2 separate regions of the Homo sapiens genome follow, and region 1 is linked to region 2. The links come from fine-mapping of genetic effects on gene expression. A gene starts in region 2. The other region holds a variant in brackets. All regions are shown on one strand. Distances are between the middles of the regions. Region 1 has its middle 40 kb from the start of ELFN1-AS1. Region 2 holds the start of NUDT1 (nudix hydrolase 1).

What was found. PIP is the estimated chance that this variant, and not a neighbour inherited with it, causes the effect.
Region 1: its variant is the best candidate, but not a certain one, in a credible set for the expression of NUDT1 in whole blood (TOPMed, PIP 0.73).

The regions. Positions count from the first base shown.
Region 1 is chr7:1,778,328-1,787,183 of GRCh38, forward strand. No RefSeq gene overlaps it. Among named protein-coding and RNA genes, the nearest start is that of ELFN1-AS1, 40 kb to the left of the region's middle. The variant G/A (reference allele first, on the strand shown) is at 3,920.
Region 2 is chr7:2,236,859-2,245,714 of GRCh38, forward strand. NUDT1 (nudix hydrolase 1) reads left to right here and starts at 5,368. Exons shown (of 4, transcript NM_002452.4): 1 at 5,368-5,398; 2 at 7,705-7,868. The coding sequence starts at 7,717. MRM2 (mitochondrial rRNA methyltransferase 2) reads right to left here and starts at 5,347. Exons shown (of 3, transcript NM_013393.3): 1 at 5,304-5,347; 2 at 2,560-2,849. The coding sequence starts at 5,311. RefSeq lists enhancers at 1-1,156, 442-841, 3,880-4,731 and a silencer at 5,054-5,273.

The sequences.
Region 1 (8,856 bases), 460 kb before region 2:
TGCCATGCATCGAGTTTATATAGTCACACGTGCCTCTCTGAGCTCTCAGTCTATCCTGTCCCTTTGACTAGAATGACATAACTCCTTTAGTTACTACAGATTTACAATATGCCCTATGACCTGGGAGGCGAAGTCCCTCCTAGCTTCTTCAAGAGCGTTTTGACTGTTCTTGACTCTGCTCTAAATTCTAGAATCAGTTCATCAAGCTTCATGAAAATCCTGTGTGTTCTTCCAGAAGTCATCGCTGCTATACCATGTGGCTGAGGTTTGGGGTTAAGGAAGTTGTCTTCCCTTTGCTATGCATTTTTATTATGGATACATAGATATTATGTTTTTTTAAATGTTTTTCCTGGCCAGGTGCAGTGCCTCACGCCTATAATTGTAGCACTTTGGGAAGCCGAGGCAGGAGGATCACTTTAGTTCAGGAGTTTGAGACCAGCCTGAGCAACACTGTCTGACCAGTCAGACGTTGGAGACCCTGTCTCCAGTGAAAGTTTAAAAAATACTAGCCAAGCATGGTGGTTGCACACCTGTGATTCCAGATACTTGGGAAGCTGAGGAGGGAGGATCGCTTGAGCCTGGGAAGTCAAGCCTGCAGTGAGCTGTGATTGCACCACTGCACTCCAGCCTGGGTGACACAGAGAGCCCTTGTCTCAAAAAATAAAAACAAAATTAAAAAAGCATTTTTCCTATGCTAGCGAGATGACCAGAGATGTTCCTTCCTTATTCTGTTACTATGGAGAATGTATAAATGTATTTCCTAATGTTAAGGCACCGTTTCAATCCAGGGATAAACTTGATTTGGTCATAATGTGTTACAGATACAGGCACACACATAAAGAGATCATGCTATCACATTATAACCAAATTATATAGATAAAGCACATTATGGGCCAGGCACAGTGGCTCACACCTATAATCCCAGCACTTTGGGAGGCCAAGGCGGGAGGATCGCTTGAGGCCAGGAGTTTGAAACCAGCCTGGGGGCAACATAGCAAGATCCCATCTCTACAAAAAATAAAAAAAAATTAGCCAGGTGTGGTGGCATGCACCTGTAGTCCCAGCTACTTGGGAGGCTGAGGTGGGAGGATCACTTGAGCCCAGGAGTTCAAGGCTGCAGTGAGCTATGATTGTGTCACTGCACTCCAGCCTGGGCAACAGAGTGAGACACTGTTTTTTAGAAAAGCATTATGACCAAATGTATACACAGTCGTGCGCCGCGTAGAAACATTTTGGTCAGTGACTAACTGCACATCCGACAGGGGTCTCATGAGAGATTGTAGTGGATCTGAAGATTCCCTGTCGCCTGGTGCTGTGGTGGCCATCGTCACGTCACCGTGCAGTACGTTACTCGTGTGTGTATGTGTGTGTACGCACCCGTGATGCTGGGGTAAACAAGCCCTCTGCACCACCAGTCATAGGAAAGTCTAGCACATACAATTACGTCCAGTGCACAGTACTTGCAAATGATGATAAACCACTGTGTCACTAGTTCATGTATATACTATCCTATACTTTTTTTTTTTTTTTTTTTTTTGAGATGGAGTCTCACTCTGTCGCCCAGGCTGGAGTGCAGTGGCGCGATCTCGGCTCACTGCAAGCTCTGCCTCCCGGGTTCACGCTATTCTCCCGCCTCAGCCTCCCGAGTAGCTGAGACTACAGGCGCCTGCCACCGCGCCCTGCTAATCTTTTGTGTTTTTAGTAGAGATGGGGTTTCACTGTGTTAGCCAGGATGGTATCGATCTCCTGACCTCATGATCCGCCCGCCTCGGCCTCCCAAAGTGCTGGGATTACAAGCGTGAGCCGCCACACCCGGCCAACTTTTTTATCATGATCTTAGAGTATACTACTACTGATTAAAAACAAAAACAAAGTAACTATAAAGCAGCCTCAGGCAGGTCCTTCAGGAGGGATTGCTGAAGCCCTCCATTGGGACAGGATATGGAGGGGAAGTCAGTGATATTGGCGATCCTGACCCCGTGTAGGCCTAGGCTAATACTGGGCTAATATGTGTGTTTCTGTTTGTAACAAAAAATTTTTTAAGTAGAAAAAAGGGTACAGTGGGTCATGCCTGTAATCCCAGCACTTTGGGAGGCCGAGGCAGGAGGATAACCTGAGGTCAGGAGTTCAAGACCAGCCTGGACAACATGGTGAAACCCCGTCTCTACTAAAAATACAAAAATTAGCCAGGCATAGTGGCATGTGCCTGTAATCCTAGCTTCCCAGGAGGCTGAGGCAGGAGAATTGCTTGAACCTGGGAGGCGGAGGTTGCAGTGAGCTGAGATCGTGCCACTGCACTCCAGCCTGGATGACACAGCGAGACTCCATCAAAAAAAAAAAAAAAAAAAAAAGGTAGAAAAAAGTTTCAAAAATACTAGGTTGGTGCAAAAGTAATTGCAGTTTTTGCCATTAAAAGTAATGGGATTAAAAAGTAATGGTATTATTTTTGCACCAACCTTAATAGAAAAAAACTTACTTACAAAATAAAGAAAGAAAATATTTTTGTACAGCTGTACAACGTGTTTGTGTTTTAAGCTAAGTATTACCAAAAAGTAAAAATTTTTTTAAAGTTTACAAAGTAACAGTAAGCTAAGGTTACTTTATTATTGAAGAAAAAATATTTTTAATAAACAGAGTATAGCTTAAGTATACAGTGTTTATAAAGTCTTCAGTAGGCCAGGAAGGGTGGCTCACACCTATAATCCCAGCATTTTGGGAGGCCGAGGCAGTTGGATCACAAGAAGTCAGGAGTTCGAGACCAGCTTGGCCAACATGGCAAAACCCCATCTCTACTAAAAATACAAAAATTAGCAGGGTTTGATGGTGCACGCCTGTAGTCCCAGCTACTCAGGAGGCTGAGGCAGAAGAATCGCTTGAACCTGGGAAATAGAGGTTGCAGTGAGCCGAGATGGTGCCACTACACTCCAGCCTAGGCGACAGAGCGAGACCCTGTCTCAAAAAAATAGTCTCCAGTGGTGCACAGTAACGTCCCAGGCCTTCACACTCACTCACCCTCTCTCACCGACTCACCCAGAGCAACTTCCACTCCCGCAAGCTCCGTTCGTGCTAAGTGCCATATCAGGTACGCCACTTTAAAGTCACTGATCCTGTGTTTTCACGGCACCTTCTCTGTGTTTAGATGTGTTGAGACATACAGACATACAGTATTGTGCTGCAGTTGCCTGCAGCGTTCAGTGCTGTCACCTGCTGTGCACATTTGGAGCCCTGGAGCCCAGGAGCCACAGGCCACACCGTACAGCCTGGCCATGGGGTAGGCTCTGCCATCTTAGAGTACACTACTGGATCTGTGGAAGGTCACTTACACGTGACGAAATCGTCCAACAACATGCGTGCAGACAAACAGATATGGTGCTATAACATTATAGCAATATGCATATAATATTCTACGCATGTCTCAGAATGTATCCCCAGGGTTGAGCATTGCTTGACGGTACATATAACACTATTGAGGTAGGAGGTGGGAGTCAACTCCAGACCTGATTGAAGACTAGCTAAAACACAGAAGAGGCACTGAAAGCTCTTCTCCCTAAGACAGGCCCACCAGCGCCGCAACAGTTTAGCATTGCCATGGCAACACCCGAAAGTTACCACCCCTTTTCATGGCAGTGACCTGGAAGTTATCATCCCTTTTCTAGAAATTTCTAAATAACTTGCCCTTTAACTTACGTATATTTGAAAGTGAAGTTTGGGCGTAGTGGCTCACAGCTGTAATCCCAGCACTTTGGGAGGACAAGGAGGGCGGATCACTTGAGGTCAGGAGTTTGGCACCAGCCTGGCCAACATGGTGAAACCCTGTCTCCACTAAAAATACAAAAATTAGCCGGGTGTGGTGGCGGGCACCTGTAATCCCGGCTACTCGGGAGGGTGAGGCAGGAGAATCGCTTGAACCCAGGAGGTG[G/A]AGGTTGCAGTGAGCCAAGATAGCACCACTGCACTCCAGCCTGGGTGACAGAGCGAGACTCTGTCTCAAAAAAAAAAAAAGAAAGAAAGAAAGTGGGTGTAGGTATGATTGCAGAACTCCTCCCAAGTTGTTACTCTGGACACACTGCCCGCGGGGTGGCCCTGCCCTGTGGGAACAGCCATGGGGCTGTAACCCCGCCACCTCAGTAAAGCTGCCTCATTCTACCCCACTGCCAGCTTTCCCTTGTAGTCTGTCCTAGGCGAAGCTAAGAACCCTCACCAGCTAAGCCCTACTCTGGGGCTCGCCTGTCCCACATCACTGCTAGATGGTTTGATTTTTGTTGTTGTTGTTTCAGAGATTTTGTGTATATGCTTATTAAAGAGAGTGTCATTAACTTCACTTCTCTTACCACCCTTGTCTATCGGGCACAAGGATTTTCTAATCATCAGAGAATCTGCTCGGGAGCACTCCCTTTGGCTGTCTTTCCTGGAAGACTTTGAATAAGATGGAAATCATCTGTGCCTGGAATGCTTTGCTAGAACTTGCTCACAAAACAAGCTGAGCCTCGTTTTTGTATTGTGAGAAGATTTCTAAAATACTGATTAAATCTTTGTTGTTGTTTATAGTGCGATTCAGGATGTCTCTTCTGAGTCTGTTTTGGGAATTTGTATTTTCCTGGGAATGTGTCCATTTCATCTAATTATCAAATTTATTTGCAAAAAGATGTTCATAATATTCCCTTTTTCTTTTTTTTTTTTTTTCAGATGGAGTCTCACTGTGTCACCCAGGCTGGAGTGCAGTGGTGCAATCTCGGCTCACTGCAACCTCCACCTCCCAGATTCAAGTGATTCTCCTGTCTCAGCCTCTCAAGTAGCTGGGGTTACAGGCAAGTGCCACCAAGCCCAGCTAATTTTTTTTTTTTTTTTTTTTTTGAGACAGAGTCTTGCTCTGTTGCCCAGGCTGGAGTACAGTGGCGGGATCTCGGCTCACTGCAAGCACCACCTCCTGAGTTCATGCCATTCTCCTGCCTCAGCCTCCCGAGTGGCTGGGACTATAGGTGCCTGACACCACGCCCAGCTGATTTTTTATATTTTTAGTAGAGACAGGATTTCACCATATGGGTCAGGCTGGTCTCGAACTCCTGACCTCTGGTGATCTGCCCCCCCCCCCCCCCGCTCAGCCTCCCAAAGTGCTGGGATTACAGGCGTGAGCCACTGCGCCCAGCCCATAATATTCCCTTATTAACTTTTCAGCCTCTACTCTCCTGTGTAGTAATGTTCATTTTCTCTATCCCAATAGTTCTTGTGTTTTCTATTTTTTAAAAAAATTGATTAGTCTTGCTAGAGGTTTAGTTCAGCTATATTAGTTCTTCCAAAAAATCAACTCTATAATTCCTCCCCATTGTATTTTTATTTTCTATTTTATTAATTTCTGGTTGCCTTTATTATCTTCCTTTCATTTTCTTTGGAATTATTTTCCTGTTCTAACTTTTTAAGTTGGGTACTTATTAATTTTTAGGGGATTTTCTTCTAATATATGCGTTTATGACTACAAAGTACTTATCACCATATGGTGTTACAATTCATGATCATTTTTGGTATTTTCACTATTTAGTCTTAAGTATTTCTGAATTTCCATTATGAGACTTTTTTACCCGTGGGTAATTAGAAATATGTTTTTAAATTTCTAGATTTATTAAGATTTTTAGGCTTTAGGTTTCTTTCATTGTTATTGACTTCTAAACTACTTGGCGTTGTGCTCAGAGAATGCTGTTACTATGGTACCAGTCCTTCCAGGTCTATTTAGGTTTGATTGATGGCTGAATATGTAGTCAGTTCTATAATGTTTCTTGGGCCCTGGAGAAGAAAGCATATTCTCCGGTTATTGTATACAGAATCCTATAAATATCTTGCGGATCAAGTTTGTTACTTTGTCGCTCAGATCTTCTAAATCCTTACTGATTTTTATTTGCTTGTTCTATCAATTACTGAAGGAGGCGTGTTAAAATCTCCCTGTGTGCTGCTGGATTGATCAGTTTCTTCTTGTAGCCATTTCTTGTGTAATTTGCTTTCTTTATAAAATTTAAAGTTACCCTAATAGGTACATACACGTTCAGAATTCTTCTGTAGTTCTCCTGAGTCAGCGCCATATTGTGACCTCTTTATCCCTGGCAATGCTTTTTGCATTTTGATCAGAATATTATTTTCCTGGCTGGGCACAGTGGCTCACGCCTGTAATCCCAGCACTTTGGGAGGCCGAGGTGGGTGGATCACCTGATGAGGTTGGGAGTTCGAGACCAGCCTGACCAACGTGGAGAAACCCCGTCTCTACTAAAAATACAAAATTAGCCGGGCTTGGTGGTGCATGCCGGTAATCCTAGTGACTCGGGAGGCTGAGGCAGGAGAATCACTTGAACCCGGGGGTGGAGGTTGCAGTGAGCCGAGATTGTGCCACTGCACTCCAGACTAGGCAACAAGAGCAAACTCCGTCTCCAAAAAAAAAAAAAAAACAAAAACAAAAAGAATATTTTTCATTCTTTTTTCAACCAATCCCTGTACTGTATTTTTTCATTCACCCAATCCCTGTACTGTATTTTTCAACCAATCCCTGTACTGTGTTTTTCAACCAATCCTGTACTGTATTTCAGTCTCACACAAAAAAAAGAATATTTTCATTCTTTTTTCAACCAATCCCTGTACTGTATTTTTTCATTCAACCAATCCCTGTACTGTATTTTTTCAACCAATCCCTGTACTGTATTTTTTCATTCAACCAATCCCTGTACTGTATTTTTCAACCAATCCCTGTACTGTGTTTTTCAACCAATCCTGTACTGTATTTCAGTCTCCAAAAAAAAAAGAATATTTTTCATTCTTTTTTCAACCAATCCCTGTACCATATTTTTTCATTCAACCAATCTCTGTACTGTATTTTTTCATTCAACCAATCCCTGTACTGTATTTTTTCGTTCTTTTTTCAACCAATCCCTGTACTAACATTTTAGGAGTGTCTTTTTTGTTTTTTATTTTTATTATTTATTATTTTATTTTTATTTTTTTGAGACAGAGTCTTGCTCTGTCACCCAGGCTAGAGGGCAGTGGTGCAGTCGCGGCTCACTGCAACCTCCACCTCTCAGGTTCAAGCAATTCTCCTGCCTCAGCCTCCTGAGTAGCTGGGACTACAGGCACCTGCCACTACACCCAACTAATATTTTGTATTTTTAGTAGAGATGGGGTTTCACCATGTTGGCCAGGCTGGTCTCGAACTCCTGACCTCAGGTGATCCACCTGCCTCGGCTGGGATTATAGGCATGAGCCACCACGCCTGGCCGTGGGCATACAATTTTAGAGCTTTTCTTTAACAGTTTTTTTCTGTCTAAACTTGGAAGATAGTTGTTCCTGTTCCTTTTTTGCTTCTTTTATGTGTGATAGGAAGTCGTAGGTGGTCTGTTTGTTGTAGTGTATGGGTGACCTGTATGTTCTCTGGTGCAGCTTTTAAGCCCTGTGTGTCATGTTCTGCAGTTCCACTATGAGGCACCTCTGAATGGATTTCTACTCTTCCTGCTTGGATTCATCTGGGTTTCCTTATCTGAAAGACTATGTCTTTCATTCATTCTAGGAAATCCTTTGCCATTATCCCTCCTGACAGTGCTTCTCTCCTATTCTGTGCAGAATTTCTTTCTGCAGCACCAATTAGCCCTGTGCCGGACCTTCTCCCCTGACCTTCTGTGTCTCAGAGCCTGTCTTTTCACCTCTGATTTTCTTGGTGCTACATTCCCTGTAATATCAACTTCCAGTCTACTAATTCTCCCTTCAGCTGTGTCAGTCTGTGTTCAGCCCTTGTGCTGCAGTCTGTGGATTTTCCGCAGGTCTACCTTCTAGTCTGCCAATTTTTTCTTTTTCTTTTTCTTTTTCTTTTTTTTTTTTTTTTTTTTTTCGAGACAGAGTCTCACTCTGTTGCCCAGGCTGGAGTGCAGTGGCTCAATCTCAGCTCAATCTCAACCTCCATCTCCCGGGTTCAAGTGATTCTCCTGCCTCAACCTTCGAAGTAGCTGGGATTACAGATATGTGCCACCATGTCTGGCTAATTTTTATATTTTTAGTAGTGACAACGTTTTGCCATGTTGGCCAGGCTGATCTCTACCTCCTGATCTCAGGTGATCCACCTGCCTCGACTTCCCAAAGTGCTGGGATTACAGGTGTGAGCCACTGTACCCGGCCCCAATTTTCTAATTCTCTGTTTAGCTGTATTTATCTGCTGTCTAATCTTCCCAGTGATTTAAGATTTATTCATGACTATATTTGTTTTACTTTGTTTCTTTCCTAGTTTTTAAATTCTCTTACTATGTTTTCATTTCCCTATTTCAGGTCTTTAAAAATATTAAACGTTGTGTTTTATATGCTGTTTTCATTAAGACCAATATCCCAGGTCTTTCTGGGCCAAGTTCTATTTGTTATTTGGGCTGATCTTTTACATGGTGTCTTGCTTTCTGGTAGTTTTTTTATTAAAATCATATTATTGTACATATTATATGTAAATATATATTTGAACTTGACCTTGGACATTCTCTAAGGCCTGGGTTGAGGCATATTCCTCCAGAGGAAAATGTGTTTGTTTTGGGCAGGTTCCTGAGGCACTACAAATCCACATTAAATTACAATTCTCAGTTGGGCACGGTGGCTCACGCCTGTAATCCCAACATTTTGGGAGGCCGAGGCAGGCAGATCACCTGAGGTCAGGAGTTCAAGACCAGCCCGGCCAACATGGTGAAACCCCATCTCTACTAAAAATATAAAAATTAGCTGGGTATGGCGGCGGGCACCTGTAATCCCAGCTACTCAGGAGGCTGAGGCAGGAGAATTGCTTGAACCTGGGAGGCAGAGGTTGCAGTGAGCCAAGATTGCACCACTGCACTCCAGCCGGGGTGATAAAGCGAG
Region 2 (8,856 bases):
GTGAAGAGGGGGCTTTGAATGTAGGTACAGAGTGAGAAGAGGGGGAGGCAGATGCTGAGATCAGTTATAGGCAACAAGTCTTGTTTTACGTAAGGTGACACAAAGGCATCTTTTTAGTTTTAGCAAACTGGTGTTACTCAAATATCAGCAAGTTATCTTTGTGTGTCTTTGTGTGTGTGTGTGTGAGACAAGGCCTCACTCCGTTGCACGGCCTCAGCTCACTGCAGCCTTGACTTCCCCAGGTTCGAGCGACCCCTGCCACCTCAGCTTCCCAAGGAGCTAGGACCACAGGAACATGCCACCACACCTGGCTAATTTTTTGTAGAGACGGGGGTTTCACCATATTGCCCAGGCTGGTCTCGAACTCCTGACCTCAGGTGATCCTCCCCTTGGCCTCCCAAAGTACTGGGATTACAGGTGTGAGCCACTGCGCCCGGCCTCACGCCTCACTTTATGCTCCTGAGCTTTCACTCCTATAATATCCAGTATGTTACAACCTTCGGAAATTTCCACCGAAGGCAAACAGCTTTGGCTGCATGCTTGTGACTTCCGGGAGGACAAGCCCAGGCAGATCACGCTCACGCTCTCTCCTTCTGTCACTTCCTCCTACAAGGCACGCTGGGCCACTCTCCTGCTTCATCTCAAGAGCACTTAGGGGAACAGAAACCACTGAAATCAGTTACTAGGAGGACTCCACGGTGATAAGCTCAGCAATGAGAAAAGGAACTGACATTTCCAACACAAATTCACTTATTTAGTCAATAAATGTTGAGCTGAAAAACAATAAAAAGGCTTTCAGGCTGACCACGATGGAAGCACCAGGAAGCACCTCGAGGATGCTGGGAGGCAGAGGCGGGCGGATCACCTGAGGCCTGGAGTTCGAGACCAGCCTGGCCAACATGGCAAAACCTCATCTCTACTAAACATACAAAAATTAGCCGGAAATCACTTAAACACAGGAGGCAAAGATTACAGTGAGCCGAGATGGCGCCATTGCACTCCAGCCTGGGCAACAGAGTGAGGCTCTATAAACAAAAAAAAAAAAAAAAAAAAAAAATGCTGTTGAAAAGCCCGAAGAGGCATATCCCCGCCTAAGTATGGGCAGGGGCCACCCAAGGGGATGCAGGTAGACACCAAGAGTTCATGGCAAACCTACCGCAAACCAGCAGCGAGGCAGATGTGCAGATCCAGGGGGCCAGCATTCCATTTCTGCACTTTCAACAAGTCATGAAACCCTGAGCCTGTTTTCTCACCAATAAATGGGGACCAGTGTCCCTACTCTAAGGTATTTGGGAGAGACTTGGGAGAGCTCTGGGTGGACTGTCTCACCCTGTTCAAATGCCAGTGCATGCAGCTACCCTGGCTTTACAGCAGGAAACATAAATGGCAAGGATATTCACCACAGCACACGCATCCCAGCCAAAAGCCAAAAGCAACCTTGATGCCACAGTGAGGGAGCTGGTTAAAGAACCTACGGTGCAAGCACTACATGGAATAGGATGAAACTTTCCCAATGACGACAGTGTCTTCAGTTGCATGGGCGGTTGGCTGATCTCATTATTCAGGAGAACCTTTTTATATAGAAAATCTTACTCAAAACCCTAAGATACAAAACAGATGAAAACTGTGTCTCAGCTTCATCCAGAGCAAAGAATCCATAGCCCTGGCCATGAAGCCTCTTCTAGGTTCCGGACGGAGCAGCCCCAGTGGGGCCACCAGGAAAGCCCCAGGGCTTATGCGACTTGGAAATTTAGCTGTGCTGTTGGGGAAAGATGTCAATACATCATTAAGAGTAGCCGGGCACCATGGCTCACATCTGTAATCCCAGCACTTTGGGAGGCCGAGGTGGGCAGATCACCTGAGGTCAAGAGTTCGAGATCAGCCTAGCCAACATAGTGAAACCCTATCTCTACTTAAAAAAACAAAAAGAAAAAATTAGCTGGGTGCGGTGGCGGGCGCCTGTAATCCCAGCTACTTGGGAGGCTGAGGCAGGAGAATCGCTTGAACCAGGTAGGCAGAGGTTGCAGTGAGCCGAGATCACACCATTGCACTGCAGCCTGGGCAAGAGTGAGACTCCATCTGGAGGGGGGGGAAGAACAAAAATAATAACAATAATAATTATATATATATATATATATATATATATATATATATATATATATATATATATAATACATATATGTATGTATCATTAAGCAAAAATAGCTCCAATAGGCTGCAAATTAGCAAGAAAAGTATGGCACAACATCGCTTTTGAAAATGTGAGGGATCTATGCATGCACAAGCCTGGAAGGATGCACACCACCATGCTGGTGCTGGTACCTGCGGGCGGTCTCATGCGAGGTGATTTCCATGTTCACTGCACCTTTCTACCTTGTCTTTCATTTTGAAAATGGCAGCATCCTATTTTTATCATCACCATTGCTAAACCACCCACTCGGAAGCACACGCCTTCAAAAAAGGGCTCCACCATCCCGCATCCACTGGCAAAGGCAGCTTGCCCATGCCCACTCAGCCTCAGGGGAGCCAGAAGGTGCCAACAGCAGTGCAGAGGCCCACCTGTGCCTGCGGCGTTGACCTTCTGCACCGCCACCTGACTCCAGGCCCCAGGAGCTGCCCCACAGTCTAACACCCGAAGGCCGGGCCGCAGAATCTGGTGCCTCTCGTTCACCTCCAGGAGCTTGAAGGCGCTTCGACACCGGTAACTCTCCACCTTCGCAGCCTTCACAAATGGGTCCCTGAGATGTCGGGTCAGCCACAGGTGCTCAGCGCCTGTCCGATTCTTGCAGCGACTCCCAACAGTGTGGAACCCTTGACGCTGAAAGGAAACACACACCAGCTTCAAGTACCTGGTGGGAGAGAAGAGGAGCAGGCAGGTTGGCATCACACAGAACGGCAGGTCATGAGCTGGGAGGGCCCTCGGATCAACTCATTCATTTCTAGAGATGGGGCACCAAGGCCCAGGAGGGGAGGTGAACTGATAAGGCTACACAGATGGAAAGCAGGCATCACAGGCCAAACTGTGTCCCCGCAAAATTAATGTGTTGATGTCCTAACCCTTGGTACCTCAGAATATGGGGGTATTCGGAGACACCTGTAATTCCAGCACTTTTGGAGGCCAAGACAGGTGGATCCCCTGAGGTCAGGATTTCGAGACCAGCCTGGCCAACCGTGGCCAACATGATGAAACCCCGTCTCTACTAAAATGCAAAAATTAGCCTGGCGTGGTGGCAGATGCCTATAAACCCAGCTACTCGGGAGGCTGAAGCAGGAGAATCGCCTGAACCCAGGAGGCAGAGGTTGCAGTGAGCCGAGATTGCGCCACTGCACTCCAGCCTGGGCGACAGAGCGAGACTCTGTCTCAAACAATAACTAAATACATCAATTAATTAATTAAAGTAATATTATTTTCTCATCTGGCAAAAATGTTCATTGGGCTCTGACAGGCTGCAAGAAAACCTCATAAGGACAGATCCTTGCCTTAGTGACCTAGTTCCAGGGCTTTGACAGCTAGTACAGAGGGTCTGGCCTGTCACATTTCTTTTTTTCTTCTTTTTTTCGAGACAGGGTCTCGCTCTATAGCCCAGGCTGGAGTGCAGTGGTGAGGTCACGGTTCAACGCAGATTCGAACTCCTGGGCTCAAACAATCCTCTCACCTACATGTCTTAAATAAAATTGAACTAAACCTGTGTCAATCGTTGAAGGACAATTTCCAAGATTCTCTAGACAATTGTTACAATAAATGTAACAATTTATTCACAGCCCACAATAGCTAAGCAGGTGGAAGCTATACACACCTCCCCTTGTTTAACTCTGACAACAACCTCACCAAGGAAGTTCTATGTCCTCTTTTTCTTTTTTTAAGACGGAGTCTCACTCTGGCGCCCAGGCTGGAGTGCAGTGACAGCTCACTGCAGCCTCCGACTCCCGGGTTCAAGCAATTCTCCTGCCCCAGCCTCCCAAGTAGCTGGGATTACAGGCACACCTGCTACCATGTCCGGCTAATGTTTGTATTTTCAGTATAGATGGGTTCCACCATGTTGGCCAGGCTGGTCTCAAACTCCTGACCTCCGCTGATCTGCCCGCCTTGGCCTCCCAAAGTGCTGGGATTACAGGTGTAAGCCACTGCACCCAGGCATTTCTTTCTTCTTTTTGTTTTTTTAGAGACAGGGTTTTACTATTACCCAGGCTGGAGTGCAGTGGCATGATCACAGCTGACTGCAGCCACAGCCTCTGGGGCTCAAGTGAACCTCCCACCTCAGCCTCCTGAGTAGCTGAGACTACAGGTGTGTGCCACCACTTCCGGCTAATTTTTCTATTTTCAGTAGAGATGGGATTTCACCATGTTGGCCGAGCTGGTCTCGAACTCCTGACCTCTGGCGATCAGCCCACCTTGGCCTCCCAAAGTGCTGGGATTACAGGCGTGAACCACCTCACCCGGCCATTTTTGTTTTGCTATCATCCAGGCTGGAGTTGCAGTGGCACAATCACAGCTGATTGCTGCCATAACCTCTGGGTCTCAAGTGAACCTCCCACCTCAGCCTCCTGAGTAGCTGGGACTACAGGTGTGCACCACCATGCCTGGGCTAATTTTTTTTTTTTTTTTAATTCTTAAAAACCTTTTTTAGAGATGGCATCTCACTACATTGCCTAGGCTGGTCTCGAACTCCTAGGCTCAAACGATCCTCCTGCCTCAGACTTCCAAAGTGCTGGGATGACAGGTGTGGGCCACCAAGCCCGGTCTCTATGTCCATCTTTCTGATTTAAATAAATAAATAAAAGTTACCACCCTCATGGCTCCAAGGCCAAAGCTTCTAGCTTCTGCAACACCAAAGCGTGCTGACAAGCCAGGAGGCACTGACTGCTGACCGTGAGTCGCTGTCTTCCCCTCGCTTAAGGGGTCTCCCGGGAAAATGGCACAAGCCGGTCCCGGGGGCCAGGGCCCACTCGACAGCCCAGGAAGCGCGGGCAATGGAGCTACCCGGCCCAGAAGCGAAATCCCGCCCCGGGCTCGCCCCCGGCGCCTTGGATCTGGGCCCCGGCGCTGCGCCCCCCACCTGGACTCCGCCGCCGGCCCCGGCCTCCCCACGGCCCCGCCGGCCCTGCCCCTGGAGACCTGAGGGCGCCCTCCTCCCGGGGAACTGCGACCCGGAATCCTGGCCTCGCCCCTGTCGCGCTCGCTGAGTGCGGGGACGGTGCCCAGCGCTCGGCACCCAGCCCCGAGGCCAGGACCGAGGAAGGCGACCGGGCGGACCCCCAACCACTCCCGCTGTCTGCACGCGCAGCAGCAGCGCCCAGCTCACCCCGCCATTGGTGTTCCCCGCGCCTGCAGCGCGCCGCCGGAAGTGCCTGGCCTCACTTCCGGTCAGAGGCCACGCCCCCGGAAGCGGCGGTGCAGGTACGAAAAGCGCGCGCGGGGATTCCAGGAGTCGTGGTGACCAGGGAGGGGAGCCGGGCCAGCGGGCGGCAGGAGACTAGGGGAGCTGAGCCATGGGCTTGGGGGAGAGCGGGGCCGGGAGCTCGAAGGAGACCAGAAGAGCAGGGTCGGGGGCTCGAGGGAGACGAGGAGAGCGGGGCCGGGGGTTTGGGAGAGAGACAAGGAGAGCGGGGCGGAGGCTTGGGGGAGACCAGGAGTAAATCACAAAAATTTACTTTGGAAACCGTGGCTTCTGGCAGAAACAGATCAGTGTCGGGACAAAGTACACGGGCCTGGTGTGAAACTAAGCCACAAACCCATTTACCCTGTCTGACCTGCCTCCGCCACCAGGACCCAGTCTCAGTGAAATGGGAAAGGTTCCCTTGTCCTCCTCGAAGGGCGTGCGATGAGGATGTGGCTCACTTCTTCAGTGCCCCGCTTCTCAAGCCTCTAGGGGAACATACAGACAGGCAGGCTGAGGGGCTCCCACCCCACGGCAGTGTCTAGGGGTGAATGTTTGCAGCTCCTGAAGCCCCAGCAGGCATGTGTTAGAGGGTGCTCTTTCAGTTTAGCCTTGTAGGTGGCTTGTGTTAGTCAGCTGTTAGACTCCCTGCCTTATCGCAAGGACAGAGGGCTTTCTGTATCCCTAGGTTTCTTGCCTTGATGTACTGGAGCAATCAGATCACACGGCGGCTTGGAGAGTGAGTGCAAGGTTTTATGAGTGGAATTAGCCCTCAGCAGATGGGGGAGCCAGAAGGCAGTTGGAGTGGGAAGGTGATTTTCCCCTGGAGTCGGGCTGCTGAGCAGCCTGGGCTCTCCTCTGACCGCCCCTGCCAAACTCATGGTTCCATCAGTTGATGGCCTGCTGGTGCCTGTTGGTGTGCTTTCCACGTCCTCTTGACGTCCAGCGGCTTGTGTCTCTGCCCACTATAAAAAACCACTGGGGTTTTTTTATAGGCACAGGACGGGGACGTGGCGGGCTCGGGAAATGCAACATTTGGGCAAAAAAACAGAAATGCCTGTCCTCACCCAGGTCCCTGGGCACAGGCCTGGGTGTGGAGCCCTGGCCAGAGACCACGCCCTCCTCTACCCAGCACTTCCCTGCCCCCTTCCTTATCATCTGGTCCCTTTTCTCAGACACCACAACTTCCAAGAAGGATCACTGGTCCTGAACCCTGTGTCTTGTCCAGGTGTGGACCCCAGAAAAGTTGGTCCTGGCTGGGCGCAGTGGCTCACGCCTGTAATCTCAGCACTTTGGGAGGCTGAGGTGGGTGGATCGCTTGAGCTCAGGAGTTCGTGACCAGCCTGGGCAACGTGACAAAACCCCATCTCTACTAAAAATACAGAAATTAGCTGGGTGTGGCGGCTCATGCCTGTGGTCCCAGCTATGTGGGATGCTGAGGCAGGAGGATGGCTTCAGCCAGGGAGGCGGAGGTTACAGTGAACCGCGATCACGCCACTCTCCTCCAGCCTGGGCAACAGAGCAGGATCTTGTCTCAAAATAAATAAAGGAAAGTTGGTCCTGGCCCTCCAGCATTTCTCCAGGGTCCTTTTTTCAGCAGGGACCTGGCGGAGGCATCGCCCTCAGAGTCCTCTGGACCTGGACCTGCACACCTATGGGAGCAGGAAGGACCCTTGTGACTTCCAGTGGCCCCCCTGGGTGCCAGGTCCCACAGTAGCCACAGCAGGAGCAGAGTGGGTGGGGTATAAACTCCTATCACAGGAGGGAGGACTAGCCGGGCCTGGCTGGGTGGACCTGTGTCTACAGCCACACATTTCCTGGGAATCTGGAAGCCTGCTACAGAGAGGCCAGGTCCCACTAGACTGAAAGAAGTTCCTGTTAATCCAAAGGCCTGACCTGAGGACCACAGGATAAACTGCGTGGTTATTTTGGTGCCAATCAGGCACGGGGACTGTTGTTCCTCACTGTGTGCCTATAAGCAGGGGGTTCCTGGGGGTAGACGCAGGAGCAAGAGCACGCTCTGGAAAGGTGATGTTGTCCTCTGCACCTGAGTACTGACTTGTGGAGAAGGAAGGTAGCGCCGGCCTCTGCTCTGCTTGATCAGCCCTGCTGACCACTGGGTTCTGTTTCTACCCCAGAAAATCACTGGTTCAATGGCAGTTTTCCACCTGCCACAAGGGAAGCCACACGTGGCAGGGCTGGGGAGTTACAGCATACCCCCCCGCCCCCCACTGCCTCCCAGAGCACGTCCCCTTCCTCCTGGCCCCTGGCACGTGCTTCCTCCACGCACGTCATGGCTGACTCTGCCCTCTCACCTTCCTTTCAGAACCCAGGGACCATGGGCGCCTCCAGGCTCTATACCCTGGTGCTGGTCCTGCAGCCTCAGCGAGTTCTCCTGGGCATGAAAAAGCGAGGCTTCGGGGCCGGCCGGTGGAATGGCTTTGGGGGCAAAGTGCAAGAAGGAGAGACCATCGAGGATGGGGCTAGGAGGTAAGGATGGGGCAGGTCTGGCCATAGAACCGGCTTTCCCAGGGCACAGGGATTCGGGCTGTAGGGCCACACCCTTGGTTTCACCACTAAGAGCTAAGTGACCTGGAGCAGGGGGTTAAGCGTGAGCCTCAGTGTCTTCATCTCAGAATGAAGAACAGTCCGCAGCCCTTCGGACTCTTGTGAAGATAAAATGAGGAAATGAACTCGAAGGACTTAGAACGGTGCGCGGTGTGCGGTGCGTGCTGAGTGCGTGTTAGCTGTTGTGGTGCGGTGGTGCTGGGGGCTGCAGGGCGTATCTGGAAGCCTCTGTGCAGCAGCTTGAATTGAACCCTCCCAGCACCCTCACTGTTGCCGAAGGGCTCGTCAGTCACTTGGTTCCTCTGTCTGTTCAGTGGAGCTGATGATCGCTTTCATCTCACACTCGCTGTGCACAAAGCCTCACTGCATCCTCAACACAGCCAGCTTCACCTAGGAAGGAACTGAAGCCCAGAGAGGTTGAGCCGTTTACCCAAGATCACACAGTCCTCCAGACGCCCCTCAACCCTCACAGGGTAAATGAGATCATCTGTGTAAACATCGCTGCACAGACGTTAGCCCCCGTTCGTGTTTTTGTTCTGAGAAAGGTAGGCCAGCTTGCCTGGAGAGGAGAACTACAGAGTAAAGAGGGTCCTGGCACGGAGGAAAGCCAGGACGCTGCAGCCTAGTGGCTTTCCAATTTTTTCATCACAACCTGCAGTAAGAAATACGTTTTGTACTCTGATAGAGTGTACACACTCAGGTGTGCAGGTACAGCTAAAGTAAGTTGCAGTAGCCGCCCTTATTACATAAAAGGGGGCTCTACTTTTCCGATTCATTTCTCTTTTTTTCTCCAGAGGTGGGATCTCACCCATGGCACACTCTTGGCTCACTGCAGCCTCAAACTCTTGGGCTCAAACGATCCTCCTGCCTCAGCCTCACGAACAGCTGGGACCACAGGCACATGCCACCA